4 linked regions of the Homo sapiens genome follow. The protein of the gene in region 3 interacts with the protein of the main gene of each other region in a biochemical or structural test. Each region holds a gene or a part of one and is shown on either strand. Other genes may lie near its edges.

Region 1 (3,500 bases), on a different chromosome or scaffold from region 3:
TCTCGAGCAAAAGCTGGGTCAGTCTCTAGGACCCGGCTTTTCCGCAGAAAATCTAGCAGGTTCCCGTAGGGGGCATATTCAATAGCGATATACAAGTAACCTGAGAGGCAAAGAGACAGACAGTGGTGATTTAGACACAGGCAACCTAGGGTGGGAGCAGGCACCCGATGGTAACAGACAGGGATGAAGGAGGATCAAGGGTGGTGCACAGGTCACCAGCAGCCCCTGGCAAGCTACTCATGTGGTGGAGGTGATGGCTGAGGATGGGGGTTTGGAAGAAGGGGTAGGTGATGAGCTGGGGGCTCACCTCGGTTCTTACAGGCCCCCAGGAGGTTGATGATGTTGGGGTGATGCCCCAATTTGCACAGAACTTCCAGTTCTCCCGCAAAGTCACGATGGTCATTTTCAGAGGCATACTCTGTGTAAAGAATCCAATATTATTTTGCCAGAAATAACTCTGGAGAAAGGGCTGGCAAGGGCTGGGGTCAATTGCTGGAGGAAGCCAGGTGGGGCCTGGGATTTGTGGGACAAAGGAGAGCATCAGGGCTGGGCCAGGGGTCGCCCCAGTGGACCTTTCAGCATTTTGATGGCTGCGTTCATCTTCAGCCCGTCCTTCTTGATCATGGCCCGGATGACCTGGCCGAAGTTCCCCTCCCCGATGAGGTCCTCAAAGGTGATGTCCTCCCACTCTAGCACTGGGTAGCTCAGGGGCTCGGGCTGCAGTTTTGGCCGCCGGGTAAGTGTCAAGGTCCCTGAGCTGAACTGCAGGATGGTCTCCTCGCCCTTCACAGGATGAGACAAGAGGGCAGACGGTCCACGCAAGAGTCAAAGGGGGCGGAAGGAGGCACAGACAGGCACACGAGGAGGTTTCAGTGTCAGACAAGTGGGCAGAGACCCAGATGGAGGGCACCCTGGTGGTCAGCCAGGGACAGACAGGCAGACAGAGGACATAACTGAGACAGAATCATAGGTAACAGAGCCACAGGTAGGCTGCTGGGTGGACAGATGTCCAAGGAGAGAAATGCAGAGGCTGCAGCCAGGGGATCTAGTGTACGGGACTCTGGAAGGCAGAACCAGGGCTTGTGGGTAAAGTTGCTAGAAGCCACAATGTGAGTCAATGGAAGGAGGATATTTCTAACATTTAAAACAGAAAAGGATCGGAATGAGCTTCCTATGACTGTGCTAATCCTACAACCAGGCTTTTTGTTGTTGTTGTTGTTGGGGGTCACCAGGGAAGCTCTGGAGAAGATTCCAGCCTTAGGGAGTAGGCCAGGGGACATTTATTGAGCACCTACTACATGCTCAGCCCTGAGCTGCTGGGAGCCAGTGGAGGGGTTTTCTCCACAGTAGCAGAAGCAGAGATTACCCTGTCCACACACTTGGCTTTTCTCCATAGCTCTAAAATCAGGCCAGGACCTGAAAATAGCAAGACTATAACAAAGAGGAATGTCCAATTTCCTAACTCAGTAGGAGGAGGCCATCTGGGTGGGGCTGATGGTGGGAAAAGGAAATAAGTGAACAGGACCAAAGAAACTGCCAATATGAGAACTGGAAGCAGGGTTAAGACAGACCTTCTGGTGGGGCTTCCTAAGTGCACTGAAGTCCAGCTTGATGGGCAAGGGCTGAGGACCTGGGGCCCAGGGATTTGCAAGAAGCACTGGTGCTGACGGCACATAGCAAATGCACGTGATGTTCTTGGGCAGCACCATATGTAGGTGCATCATGTATAGGTCCATACACACATGCAGGCCTGAAGGTGCACAGGCATAGGGACACGTGCATCTGGGACACACGCATTTAAACATGTGGCACTCACAGGGGATGCACGTGTGCACTCATACATGGAGCACACACATTTGTGCACACACGTTTCCTATCCATATGCAGGCACATGTACCAGGGATATATCTTTTTGTTTGTTTTGAGACAAGGTCTCGCTCTGTTGCCCAGGCGGAAGGGCAATGGCACGATCTCAGCTCATTGTTACCTCGAGCTTTTGGGCACAGGCAATCCTCCCACCTCAGCCTCCCGAGTAGTTGGGACCACAGGTGCACACCTCCACGCCCATCTAATTTTCATATTTTCTTTTATTGTAGAGATGGGGTTTTGCCATGTTGCCCAGGCTAGGGGGATATATCTTGATATAGAGTATGACACCATGTATGTTAAGGACTGCTTTCCCACCTCCTGCCCTCGACATCTGTACCCATTACCCTCCCCCACCACAGCAGTGAGGGCTTTCTGTGTGCACTGACCTCAGAGGAAGAGCCAACACAGCTTGGAACAAAGAAGCCAATTGAATCTCTGAATGGATTTTTTTTTTTGAGATGGAGTCTCACTCACTCTGTCATCCAGGCTGGAGTGCAGTGGCGTGATATTGGCTCACTGCAACCTCTGCCATCCGGGTTCAAGCAGTTCTCCTGCCTCAGCCTCCCTAGTAGCTGGGATTACAGGCTCCTGCCACTGTGCCTGGCTAATTTTTGTAGCTTTAGTAGAGATGGGGTTTCACCAACTGGGCAGGCTGGTCTTGAACTCCTGACCTCATGATCCACCCGCCTCAGCCTCCCAAAGTGCTGGGATTACAGGCATGAGCCACCACGCCCGGCCTCTGAATGGATTTTTCAAAGGCATAGCAGAGACACTAGGCTTTCTATCACAAGGATCAGCCCTTGAGAGAGAAGAGGGTTTTCTTTCTTTTTTTATTTTTTATTTGAAATGCCAAAGCTTAGCTCTAAATATCAAGAGTCCAGGCCTGGAAGGCCAAGGACAGAGTTCAGATCCTAAGTGACGACAATGAAGAAGCCCTCAGAGGAGACAGGACCTGCGGATGGGCGGCTAGAATGTGACAGGATAAAGTGACAGTGGGTGCCCTCCCACACCCCACCTCTAAGCAGGGGCCTGAGGGACAGAAGGGTGTGGGCTACAGGAGGACAGACAACTCGGGCAGGATTACAGGGAAGCCAGGAGGAGTGGAGGTTTGTGCTTCCTCTTTCAAGGAGCAGGCCAGCACAATTCTGGAGTGGTAGAAACAGTTGTCTAAGTGGGAAGGGGTTGTGGCAGCGGTCTGAGGGCCACAGAATATGCCTCCTTCCATAAGGTATAAGGAAGCCCCTACAGTTCTTTAGTTCTGTTTCTTTTTCTTTTTTAATTTTTTGAGACAGGGTCTTGCTCTATTGCCCAGGCTGGAGTGCAGTGGCAACATCTCGGCTCACTGCAACCTCCGCCTCCCGGGTTTAAGCAATTCTCCTGCCTCAGCCTCCCGAGTAGCTGGGATTACAGGCATGCACCACCACGCCTGGCTAATTTTTGTATTTTTAGTAGAGACAAGGTTTCACCATGTTGGCCAGGCTGGTCTCAAACTCCTGACCTCAGGCGATCCACCCGCCTCAGCCTCCCAAAATGCTAGGATTACAGGTGCAAGTCACTGTGCCCAGCCCCTTTCTTAAGTCTCCAAAAGGAGGCCCTGGGATTTGCAAGAATGAAGGTTAGGATGAGGAGCT
Region 2 (3,500 bases), on a different chromosome or scaffold from region 3:
ATTCCTTTATAGACACGTCAGCCTAAAAATCAGCCTATTCGGGTGTTCTTTTGAATATCTCCTGGCATTTTTGTATCTAACTTTGTTCAATCTGGGAATTTCAGTTTTCAATATCCTTGAAAATGGCTTAAGTGATAACTTCCGTTTCAGTTAAAAGGAAGCCCGAAGTTGTGTTTGTGCTGCCCACAGGACAGTGGGAGTTACAGTTCATATCAGGATGACCCTACATACCCAGGTCAGATTGACGGGACCAGAAGGGAACATCGACTTCTAATCCAGCTTTCTTGTTTAATTATGACCTAAATCTAATTTACTTCCACTGAACCATCCAAGACCTCTGGCAGGCAGGGAAATGGGCAGTGATGCAAAAAAGGGAGACTCTTTGGAGCTTTTATGAATAGTTCATGGTGAGGACAGAACTTTTCTACTTTCAGACAGACTGCTTGCTAGTTTTATGAATTCAGCACACGAATTATGCTGCGTTGCTCACATTCAAACCAAACCAACGACTATGTTTAATGAACTCAGTATTCAAATTTATTATATATGCGTATATATGTATATATGGATCCCTTATATTTAGATTTAACTCGTAGTTTTATTTGAAAGTAGAAAAGAACTCTACAAAAACGGGAAGAATGTGTCTTTCTTCCCTTCTTGACTTCTAATAGGTGTCATTGAAATGTAAAATCTAAGTATGAAATTATGAAAGGACATTCTTTAATTACTGCCCACTCAACACATATTTAATATGTGCCCAGATTATTCTAAAATCTTAAAAAAAGATGCATATAGTGAAATTTTTTAAATGGATATACTTTTAATAAAGTTTTATAACTCACTGACAAAACATATTTCAATAGTATATGAGTATGAGATTTCTTATCAATTATGAGTGAAATATTCTATCTGAATGCATTGGAAGGCATTTACAGTATTTGCTTTCAACAGTTACTGAGTATGACATTTTAGCATGAAATATATCAAACACATCATTTGAAGGACATATGTAATCTTGACTATGGTTATGGTTTTTTTGTATGTATTCCTTGTTTTCATATTGATAGCATCTAATTCTTTTGACAATCTTAATATGTAGGTTCATTTAAATTTTAAGACAGTTCAGTGCATATATAGTAGAAGCCTTAAGAAAAAAGAAAATGAGCAAGCAAATATTTGAAGAAATGTATAAAACCATAGATTTCTTTCAGAAAAAAAAAACAGGCATAGGAACAGTTTTCTCTTCATATATTATGATTATGAATAATAGGAAAGTTGTATTAATTCAGTATTTGTCATTATGCAGTATTTTAATACCTACATAAGTCTATTCCATTATTATATTTTGCGCTTGGCATATTTATTCCTTTATGCTTTTAATCACTAACATATTTTACTTAAGAGTATAAAACTATGCTAAATAAATTGTATTGTATATGGAATATGCTTGCCATTATGAAGAACAGCTGGGTATACCATTATTTCAAGTAATAAATCTGAATTCTATTAGTTTAAAAATTGTAAAATTCAAGTTAAATGACGTGTATGATATATAAGCTGAACACATTTTCTATAGCCCTTAATTTAGTTGTGTTAATTTTTCAAGGTGATGTATCAACAGCTTTTTTTATTTTGCATTTGTTTTTTCAATGTGTTTACATTGTATGAATTGAGCTTTTTGCCCACAGATTCTTGATTTGTAGTTGTTTGGCAGGATTTTTCTTTGTGATATAATCACTTCTATAAAAAATATGATGTACATTTGTCTTGTGTATTTGTCTTCATTTCACATGTCCATAGTAAATATTTTTACGTGAAGTTATTTATAAGGAATAGTAATTTACCAGTTTGTGATCATCTCTTTCATCATCATTGTTCTCTACATATGATATTATTAGCTCTTATTTTCAGATAGTCTCAAGCAGATTCTCAGTATACAGCAGATAAGTTTTTAATAGTCAACACAATTATTTTACTTTCATACCATATCTTATTTCACAACATAGTTATTTTAACTGTTTTTAGACAAGTTATTTTGGTCATTTCATTTCAATCCACTTTTTTCTATTTTGGGCTAACATTTTTAGTTTATGGGAATGTAATTTGCTACAAAATATTAGGAAGGAAATATCTTCAGAAGATAGCATTTTCCAATGACAGTAACCAATCTTTCCTGAGAGCTAAGCACTTGCAGACACTAATTTATTTCTAGCCACAATACCATGAAGCACATTTTTAGAGATGATGAAATTGAAAGGCAGAGAGGTTAGTGTACTTGTTCATGGTTGTAGAATTGGAAGAACTCAAGTCTAAGTCTGTCTTGTCCCACTTTCAAATGCTATCATCTTAAACGGGCTCTTCCTTATGCTTTTTGATATATGTATTTTAGTCAAAAACTAGTTAATTTGTGGTTGACTTATGTTCTTTATTATTAACTTAACACACTTCCATTTCTGCCAGTATGACATAATGAAGCAAAATTTTTTAACATAATTGAGCCTTAAAATGTGTCTTTTCTTTTAGCCAGAAACGTTTGAGCATCTTTTTATCAAGCATACAGCATCAGTGACATGTGGTCCTCTTCTTTTGGAGCCTGAAACAATTTCAGAAGATATCAGTGTTGATACATCATGGAAAAATAAAGATGAGATGATGCCAACAACTGTGGTCTCTCTACTTTCAACAACAGATCTTGAAAAGGGTTCTGTTTGTATTAGTGACCAGTTCAACAGTGTTAACTTCTCTGAGGCTGAGGGTACTGAGGTAACCTATGAGGACGAAAGCCAGAGACAACCCTTTGTTAAATACGCCACGCTGATCAGCAACTCTAAACCAAGTGAAACTGGTGAAGAACAAGGGCTTATAAATAGTTCAGTCACCAAGTGCTTCTCTAGCAAAAATTCTCCGTTGAAGGATTCTTTCTCTAATAGCTCATGGGAGATAGAGGCCCAGGCATTTTTTATATTATCAGATCAGCATCCCAACATAATTTCACCACACCTCACATTCTCAGAAGGATTGGATGAACTTTTGAAATTGGAGGGAAATTTCCCTGAAGAAAATAATGATAAAAAGTCTATCTATTATTTAGGGGTCACCTCAATCAAAAAGAGAGAGAGTGGTGTGCTTTTGACTGACAAGTCAAGGGTATCGTGCCCATTCCCAGCCCCCTGTTTATTCACGGACATCAGAGTTCTCCAGGACAGTTGCTCACACTTTGTAGAAAATAATATCAACTTAGGAACTTCTAGTAAGAAGACTTTTGCATCTTACATGCCTCAATTCCAAACTTGTTCTACTCAGACTCATAAGATCATGGAAAACAAGATGTGTGACCTAACTGTGTAATTTCACTGAAGAAACCTTCAGATTTGTGTTATAATGGGTAATATAAAGTGTAATAGATTATAGTTGTGGGTGGGAGAGAGAAAAGAAACCAGAGTCAAATTTGAAAATAATTGTTCCAAATGAATGTTGTCTGTTTGTTCTCTCTTAGTAAC
Region 3 (3,500 bases):
TTAGCTGGGCATGGTGGTGTGGACCTGTGGTCCCACCTACTTGAGAGGCTGAGTTGGGAGGATGGCTTGAGCCCTGGGAGGTTGAAGCTGCGGTGAACCTTGATAGCGCCACTGCACTCCAACCCAGGCAACAGAGTGAGACCCTGTCTCAAAAAGAAAAAAAATAAAAAATAATTTATTTTAGGGGGTCTTAGTAAAGAAAGACCCCCAAAAGTCCATGATTTTATAGGTCGAATGAGGTGAAAAGTGGTATCATGATAAATAAATTTGTTTAAATATCATAAAAAGTTGGTCTAAAGAAAAACATTGGGTAAATAATTATGTGAGTATGATGTGGTTATGACCAAATTGTAAAGATGATCAGTTTCTTAAGTCTGGGGGACAGGCACTGAGCAGAGGCCGTGGTGGGGAACAGGAGCCTGTCTTCATGGCTCTTACTGGCCACTGGGCAAGACTCAGATAGCACCAACCAACCAGTCACAGTTGTGATGTAGGATGTGACTGTGAATGACATCCCTGCTGCCCGCTTCAGAGAAAGGGCTGCCACTTGCCAGAGAAGGAATGGTGATAATGAGGGACAGCCAGTCCCTAAGTGGAGATCCCTGAAAGTGGTGAATATCTTAGACCAGAGAAGCCCAGAGCAGTTTTTTTACCACCTTGTATGGCTGGTTTTCCAGTGGCTTTACTGGTGCCCCCTCGGAGGACAGGGGCTGTAGGAAGTTTGTTATTACTTCCTTATTAGTGACAGCTGCAGTCATCCTATTGTCTCAGAATTTCCCTGGCATGTAAATGGTAGGATAAGGGGTGGTGGTAAGCAGATGGGGGGCATTTTGAAAACGAGGCAGTGTCAGCTCCCACAGAAGGTCTAATTTTAAACATGCAAATAATTTTCAGTTCCACTTTTCCTTCTTCCTGTTAGAGGGAAGTTGTCCCCTGTTGCCATTTCTGAAACTTGGGCGGACAATGTCGTTATTGTGTTACAAACGATTTGCGTCTCCAGGGCAGGAGTTGGGTGATATTTTTCTGGGAGCCTGTGCCAGGGCGTAGCCCAGTGTTATCTCATGGTTTCTGAGTGAATGAGTGAGTGAGTATTAAAACTTCATATCAACATGGAGCCTATAACACAGTGGTTCTGAATCTTTCTTGGGGGGGAAAAGAAGAGATACAAGACCCCTAGAGAGTATAGAGAGTATGTAAAAGGGAAGAATCCTTCCCCAAAAGGGAATGCACATATTTACAATATTGTATCCAATTTCAGAAGGTTTTTTTAAAATTTTTAATTTTATTGTTTTTTTTTTGAGACACGGTCTCAGTTTGTACCCCAGCGTGGAGTGCAGTGGCATGATCTTGGATCTCGGCTCACTGCAGCCTCTGCCTCCTGACCTCAGGTGATCCACCCACCTCGGCCTCCCACAGTGCTGGGATTACAGGTGTGAGCCACCATGCCTGACCATGACTAGTGTTTTGATGTGTGGATTTACTACAATTTATTTGACCATTCTCCTATCAATGGACACTTTAGTTGTTTTAGTACACCTCCCTGTCCCGTCACAAATCATACTTTGTAATGTTTCTGGTGGATATTTCTTGTAACCTTCACAAGTTTATCTGTAGAGTAAATTTCTAGTTTCAGGATTACTGGATTGGAAGATGCATGCATTTAAAAGTGTGATTGCTGTTGTCAGGTTGTCCTCCAAAAGTGTCCCCTCAGTTTGTACCTGTATCCATAGGTTTGGAGAGTGTCTGTTTCTCCATACCGTCTCATCTGAAATGAAAATTTTTACATGTTTGCTAGTCTGAAAGGTGAAAAATTGTATCTTGTTTTTTTTTTTTTTTTTTTTTTTTTTGAGACGGAGTCTTGCTCTGTTGCCCAGGCTGGAGTGCAGTGGCGCTGGGCTCACTGCAAGCTCCGCCTCCCAGGTTCATGCCATTCTCCTGCCTCAGCCTCCCGAGTAGCTGGGACTACAGGCGCCCGCCACCAAGCCCAGCTAATTTTTTGTATTTTTAGTAGAGACGAGGTTTCACCGTGTTAGCCAGGATGGTCTCGATCTCCTGACCTTGTGATCCGCCCGCCTCGGCCTCCCAAAGTGCTGGGATTACAGGTGTGAGCCACCGCGCCTGGCCGTATCTTGTTATTTTTATTTATATCTTTAATTTTGAGTTAGTTGAGTTTTTTGGTCATTTGCCTCTGCTTCTTCTTCTTTTTTTGTTTTCTTTTTTTTTTTGAGACAGAGTTTTGCTCTTGTTGTTCAGGCTGGAGTGCAATGGCGTGATCTTGGCTCACTGCAACCTCCACCTCCCAGGTTCAAGTGATTCTCCTGCCTCAGCTTTCTGAGTAGCTGGGATTACAGGCGTGTGCCACCACGCCCAGCTAATTTTTTGTATTTTTAGTAGAGATGGGACTTGTTCCTTAGGAACCATGTTGGCCAGGCTGGTCTTGAACTCCTGATCTCAGGTGACCCACCTGCCTCGGCCTCCCAAAGTGCTGAGATTACAGGCGTGAGCCACTGTGCCAGGCCCCATTTTTTGTTTTTTGGTTAACTCCCTGTTCATTAAAAAAAAAAAATCTATATCTATAGATAGATAGATATAGATATAATCTTTGTTATCAATTTGTATAAGCTCTTTGGAAATTAGTCCTTCGATTGTCATTTGTATTGCAAACACATTCCCCCTCCCCCATGCCAATTATTTTAGATGTAGCACTTGTTCCTTAGGAACTCAGAGATAAATAAGACCCTAGGGTGGTGAAGAGAGCATAGAATTTGGAACAAGACTCCTTTGTTGGAGTCTTGGCTCTACCACCTCATTAGCTGTGTGATCTTGGGCAGGTATCTTGACCTTTCTGATCCTTGCTCTTCATATTCCAAAAATGCTAATAATAGGAGTACCTCTGACACAGGGTAGTTGGAGAAGCTAAGTGTGATCATATTATGCTAAAATTCCTTGTAAATGGCTATGGAAACATAAACACAGCATTTTATAAAATACCACGAGGTATTCCATTTACTGAAGAGTTACATCAGAAGAGTATTTCTGATTGTGCCACTGCACTCCAGCCTGGGCGACAGACTGAGATTCCATCTCAAAAAACAAACAAACAAAAAACTAGCCAGTCATTTATAAGAATGAGTTACAGCTATAGGTGCAGGCGGTAAATACTCTCCAAGATATCTAAATAAATTAAAAGGCTATGTAGAGAACAATGTATATATAATGTTACCTTTAAAGTGACAAAAAAAGGTGAATATAGATACTTGTGTATCAGAAGAGAGAGGTATTCCATTTACTGAAGAGTTAGGGCAAAGACCATAATATTGTAATTATCAATAATTATGAATTGTCAAAATTATGTCATGAAACCTCTTTTTTTCTTTTTTTTGAGGGGGAGTCTTGCTCTGTCACCCAGGCTGGATTGCAGTGGTGTGATCCTGGTTCACTGCAACCTTTGCCTCTGAGGTTCAAGTGATTCTTCTGCCTCAGCCTGGGATTACAAGCAT
Region 4 (3,334 bases), on a different chromosome or scaffold from region 3:
CTGTGTCCTGAGCAGCTCCGAGGGGCCGCCCAGCCCTCTAGGCTCCAGGAGATGCCGTCAGCACTGGCCTCTGAGGCCTGTTGTTTTGTGTTTTGGCGTCAGGGTTTATTTGCAAGACGACGACAGCTGTTGCTCACAGAAGGACCACATTTATATTATGTGGATCCTGTCAACAAAGTTCTGAAAGGTGAAATTCCTTGGTCACAAGAACTTCGACCAGAGGCCAAGAATTTTAAAACTTTCTTTGTCCACACGGTGAGTCTGTTCCCAGGGATTTCTGTGTGCAGGGTAATGGGAGGGCTTTGCACCACGTGGGAAGCAGCCACAGGCCTTGGCCAGAGGGAGCAGCGGGGATCGGGGCAGCTGCCTCGCCCTTTCCGACATCCCAGACGCCCACACTAGTGGCTCAGTCCTGAGGGGGCAGGGGACACCCTGTGCTTGTTTTTCAGTTTGGTGGTGACTGGGGGTGGTGGTCATCAGCCTGTGTAGTTGCTTACTGCTTGTGTGAATAACCGTCACACCCACGTGCTTTCAGGACTCGGAATGGCTGGTCGCAGGCAGCTCACCAGGTTGGGGTGGGGGTTTTGGTGGGACTCCCTGGAGAACACTAAACGGCTTCTGTCTTCGCAGCCTAACAGGACGTATTATCTGATGGACCCCAGCGGGAACGCACACAAGTGGTGCAGGAAGATCCAGGAGGTTTGGAGGCAGCGATACCAGAGCCACCCGGACGCCGCTGTGCAGTGACGTGGCCTGCGGCCGGGCTGCCCTTCGCTGCCAGGACACCTGCCCCAGCGCGGCTTGGCCGCCATCCGGGACGCTTCCAGACCACCTGCCAGCCATCACAAGGGGAACGCAGAGGCGGAAACCTTGCAGCATTTTTATTTAAAAGAAAAGAAGAAAAAAAACACCCAACCACACAAAGAACAAAACCAGTAACAAACACAAAGGAATTCAGGGTCGCTTTGCTTGCTCTCTGTGCTCCGTGGAGGCCTCCGTGTGCCCTCGTTGCCGTGGGGACCCAGCTCCATGCACGTCAACCCAGTCCCGCCCAGACTAGTGGACAGACCTGGTGTCACCAGTTTTTCCTAGCATCAGTCCGAACCATGCGCCCGCCCTGCCCCAACTGTGTGCTGGTCCTGCTGTGGCCGAGGGGACCGGGTGTGTTTGGCTCTTTATGCCCCTCCCGCTGTGGTCCTGGAACTCTTCACCAGGGAGGGAGCCCTGCGGGGGCCGCAGCTTTGTGGAGGGAGCCGCCGTGCTTCTGTCACCTGCTCCCTTTCTTGCGTCTCCCTGTGATGGGCCCTTAGGCCTGGCTGGGCCCATTACATATCCCTGTGGTGGCTCTGGTGGCAGCTTTCTGTGGCCCCTGCTGTGTTGGCAGGCAGGTTTGCGTGGTGAGGAGCGGGAGGGGTTGGAGTGGTGCGGGAGCAGGCTGCCGAGTGGAGGGTGCCATCGAGGGCTCCGGATCCCTTATCCTACTTAGCAGTGTTGGTCTCTGGGGCTGGAAGCCGAGCGCATGCTGGGAGCGGTACTGTCAGAAGTGAGCCCAGTTAGTACCCCGCTGGCTCACTGCACGAGAGAGTCCTGCCCCGAGCCCTAGGTGGGGCCAGGAGGTGCCTTGGAGAAGCCAGCCAGAGCAGAGAGGGCTGCTGACTTCCGTGTGGAGCAGAGAGGCCTGAGGGCCTCCTAAAAGGTTTAAATGTCCACGCCTCTCCAGTTGCTGAAGTAGGGTCTGAGAGAACCCTGGCATCAGCAGACCCAGGGTGCTTCTGTCTCCTGCAGACCACGCCAGGGAGTGCAGACACCACCGTCACACACGCCCCTTTTGTGTTTTGGTTCAAGTTTCTCAGAGCCCCTCAGAGCTTCTACATCTGTGCATCAGAAATCTCACAGCCTTCTCATGCTGCCGGCTCATCTGGGCCCATAGAGTGGGCTTTGCCAGTTGCTGTTGCACAGGAGGCGAGAACAGCACACTTCAACCCCAGCTTGCTGGTCGGCTTTCCTCTAGAGAGAGCCGGTTTTGGGGCCATTTCCCTTTGATGCTTTGGTGGCCTTGCCCCGCTCTGCAGCACAGACAGGCCAGATGCATTTGTCCTTTGCCTAGCTACTCCCCAGGTAGAGAGTGCTCCTGGTGGCCTGGCAGGTCTGGGCCCTTCTCTCCCTGCCCAGGTTGTCCCTGGAGGGCAGCCCTCACTCCCTTTGGGGGAGAGGCAGACATTGCTGCCCACAGACCTGCCTCTGACTCAACTGTGTCCACCCTCCCTGGTCCCTACCCCCAAGTCACAGGTGACTCAGCAGTGACCCTGTGTGCCAGGCCAGATCCAAACTGAGAGGGAAGGTGTCGTTTTTACACTGCTAATGACGAGAGTGGCTCTTTTTAGCTAGGCGAGTACAGACGGGGCCTGGGAGGGGGCAGAGATGTTCCCCAGGCCCTGCCTGTGGTTCCTGCCTGGGCCTTGGCTGCTGCTGTGTGAGAGCTGCATGTGAGCCTGTGACCGTGAGCTGGGGTGAGCTGGGCCGCACCTACCCTGGGGCCCCAGGGAGCAGGACGCTCCGGGGCCCAGCACGTTGCCCTGGGCCTGTGGCCGGAGTCGGAGTCCTCTCTCCTCCTCCTGGCTTTTGGAAAGGCTTGGCTGTGTTGGGGAGTCTCTCTTAGCCCTTTCAGGAATTTCTGTTCAGGCTTCCTCCTCCTCATCAGCTATTTTACCCATCTCAGAACGTCCTGTGTCTCCATGTAGGAGAGTGGCTCTCTCAGATCTCTCAGGGCGTCTGGTTATAGGGAAACAAGTGGAGCAGGGACGTGGCTTTAATTGGAGCACTCGGCTGGGCTGCTTGGGGAGACTCTTCCGTGCGTTCTTCCTCTGGATAGAACCACCACCTCCTGGGCGTCACTGACAAGCTCCATCTTAACCTCCAAAGCCACAGAACTAGGGGCTCAGAGCCAGAGCTGGCAGCCGCCAGCCAAAATGATGCCATTGCCTGAGCTGACAGCCAAGCCCTTCTGTGGGTCACCTTTCTCCTCACCCAGCCCCTTGCTCTTCCCTTTTGAAAGGCCCGTGTGTTTTCTTTCCTTACCCTGTGCTTGCTCATGTCTACTCCGGTTTTCTCTACCACATCCTTAGAGCCATCACCTGGCACGCAGGCGCCTTACATTCTACGGTAGAACGTGGGGTACTGTGTGTGCACATAGACACACTTACGTGGAATTACAGTTGTGGGTTTATCCAAGATGAGGAAGATTTCACCTGCTGTTTAATAGACTTGGGGCCATGTGCCTCCCCACACATGGGCAAGGACAGGTGGAATGTCGGGACCACACTGTGCGGCTTCT

Evidence for each region. Proteins that work in one complex are often made in the same cells at the same time.
Region 1: of the proteins of PTPRJ (region 3) and TIE1, one has a biochemical effect on the other in vitro, tested with the Homo sapiens proteins (one large-scale study listed by IntAct).
Region 2: of the proteins of PTPRJ (region 3) and LEPR, one has a biochemical effect on the other in vitro, tested with the Homo sapiens proteins (one large-scale study listed by IntAct).
Region 4: of the proteins of PTPRJ (region 3) and PDPK1, one has a biochemical effect on the other in vitro, tested with the Homo sapiens proteins (one large-scale study listed by IntAct).

What each region holds. Positions count from the first base shown.
Region 1 is NC_000001.11:43,314,482-43,317,981, reverse strand, and holds part of TIE1 (tyrosine-protein kinase receptor Tie-1 isoform 1 precursor), read right to left. Parts: exon of another isoform or gene 2,683-3,500; intron 784-2,682; coding exon 573-783; intron 419-572; coding exon 308-418; intron 101-307; coding exon 1-100. UniProt on the Homo sapiens protein: Transmembrane tyrosine-protein kinase that may modulate TEK/TIE2 activity and contribute to the regulation of angiogenesis.
Region 2 is NC_000001.11:65,633,668-65,637,167, forward strand, and holds part of LEPR (leptin receptor isoform 1 precursor), read left to right. Parts: exon of another isoform or gene 1-1,761; intron 1,762-2,523; coding exon 2,524-3,348; 3' UTR 3,349-3,500. UniProt on the Homo sapiens protein: Receptor for hormone LEP/leptin. On ligand binding, mediates LEP central and peripheral effects through the activation of different signaling pathways such as JAK2/STAT3 and MAPK cascade/FOS.
Region 3 is NC_000011.10:47,987,059-47,990,558, forward strand, and holds part of PTPRJ (receptor-type tyrosine-protein phosphatase eta isoform 1 precursor), read left to right. Parts: intron 1-3,500. UniProt on the Homo sapiens protein: Tyrosine phosphatase which dephosphorylates or contributes to the dephosphorylation of CTNND1, FLT3, PDGFRB, MET, KDR, LYN, SRC, MAPK1, MAPK3, EGFR, TJP1, OCLN, PIK3R1 and PIK3R2. Plays a role in cell adhesion, migration, proliferation and differentiation.
Region 4 is NC_000016.10:2,597,021-2,600,354, forward strand, and holds part of PDPK1 (3-phosphoinositide-dependent protein kinase 1), read left to right. Parts: intron 1-102; coding exon 103-255; intron 256-630; coding exon 631-747; 3' UTR 748-3,334. UniProt on the Homo sapiens protein: Serine/threonine kinase which acts as a master kinase, phosphorylating and activating a subgroup of the AGC family of protein kinases.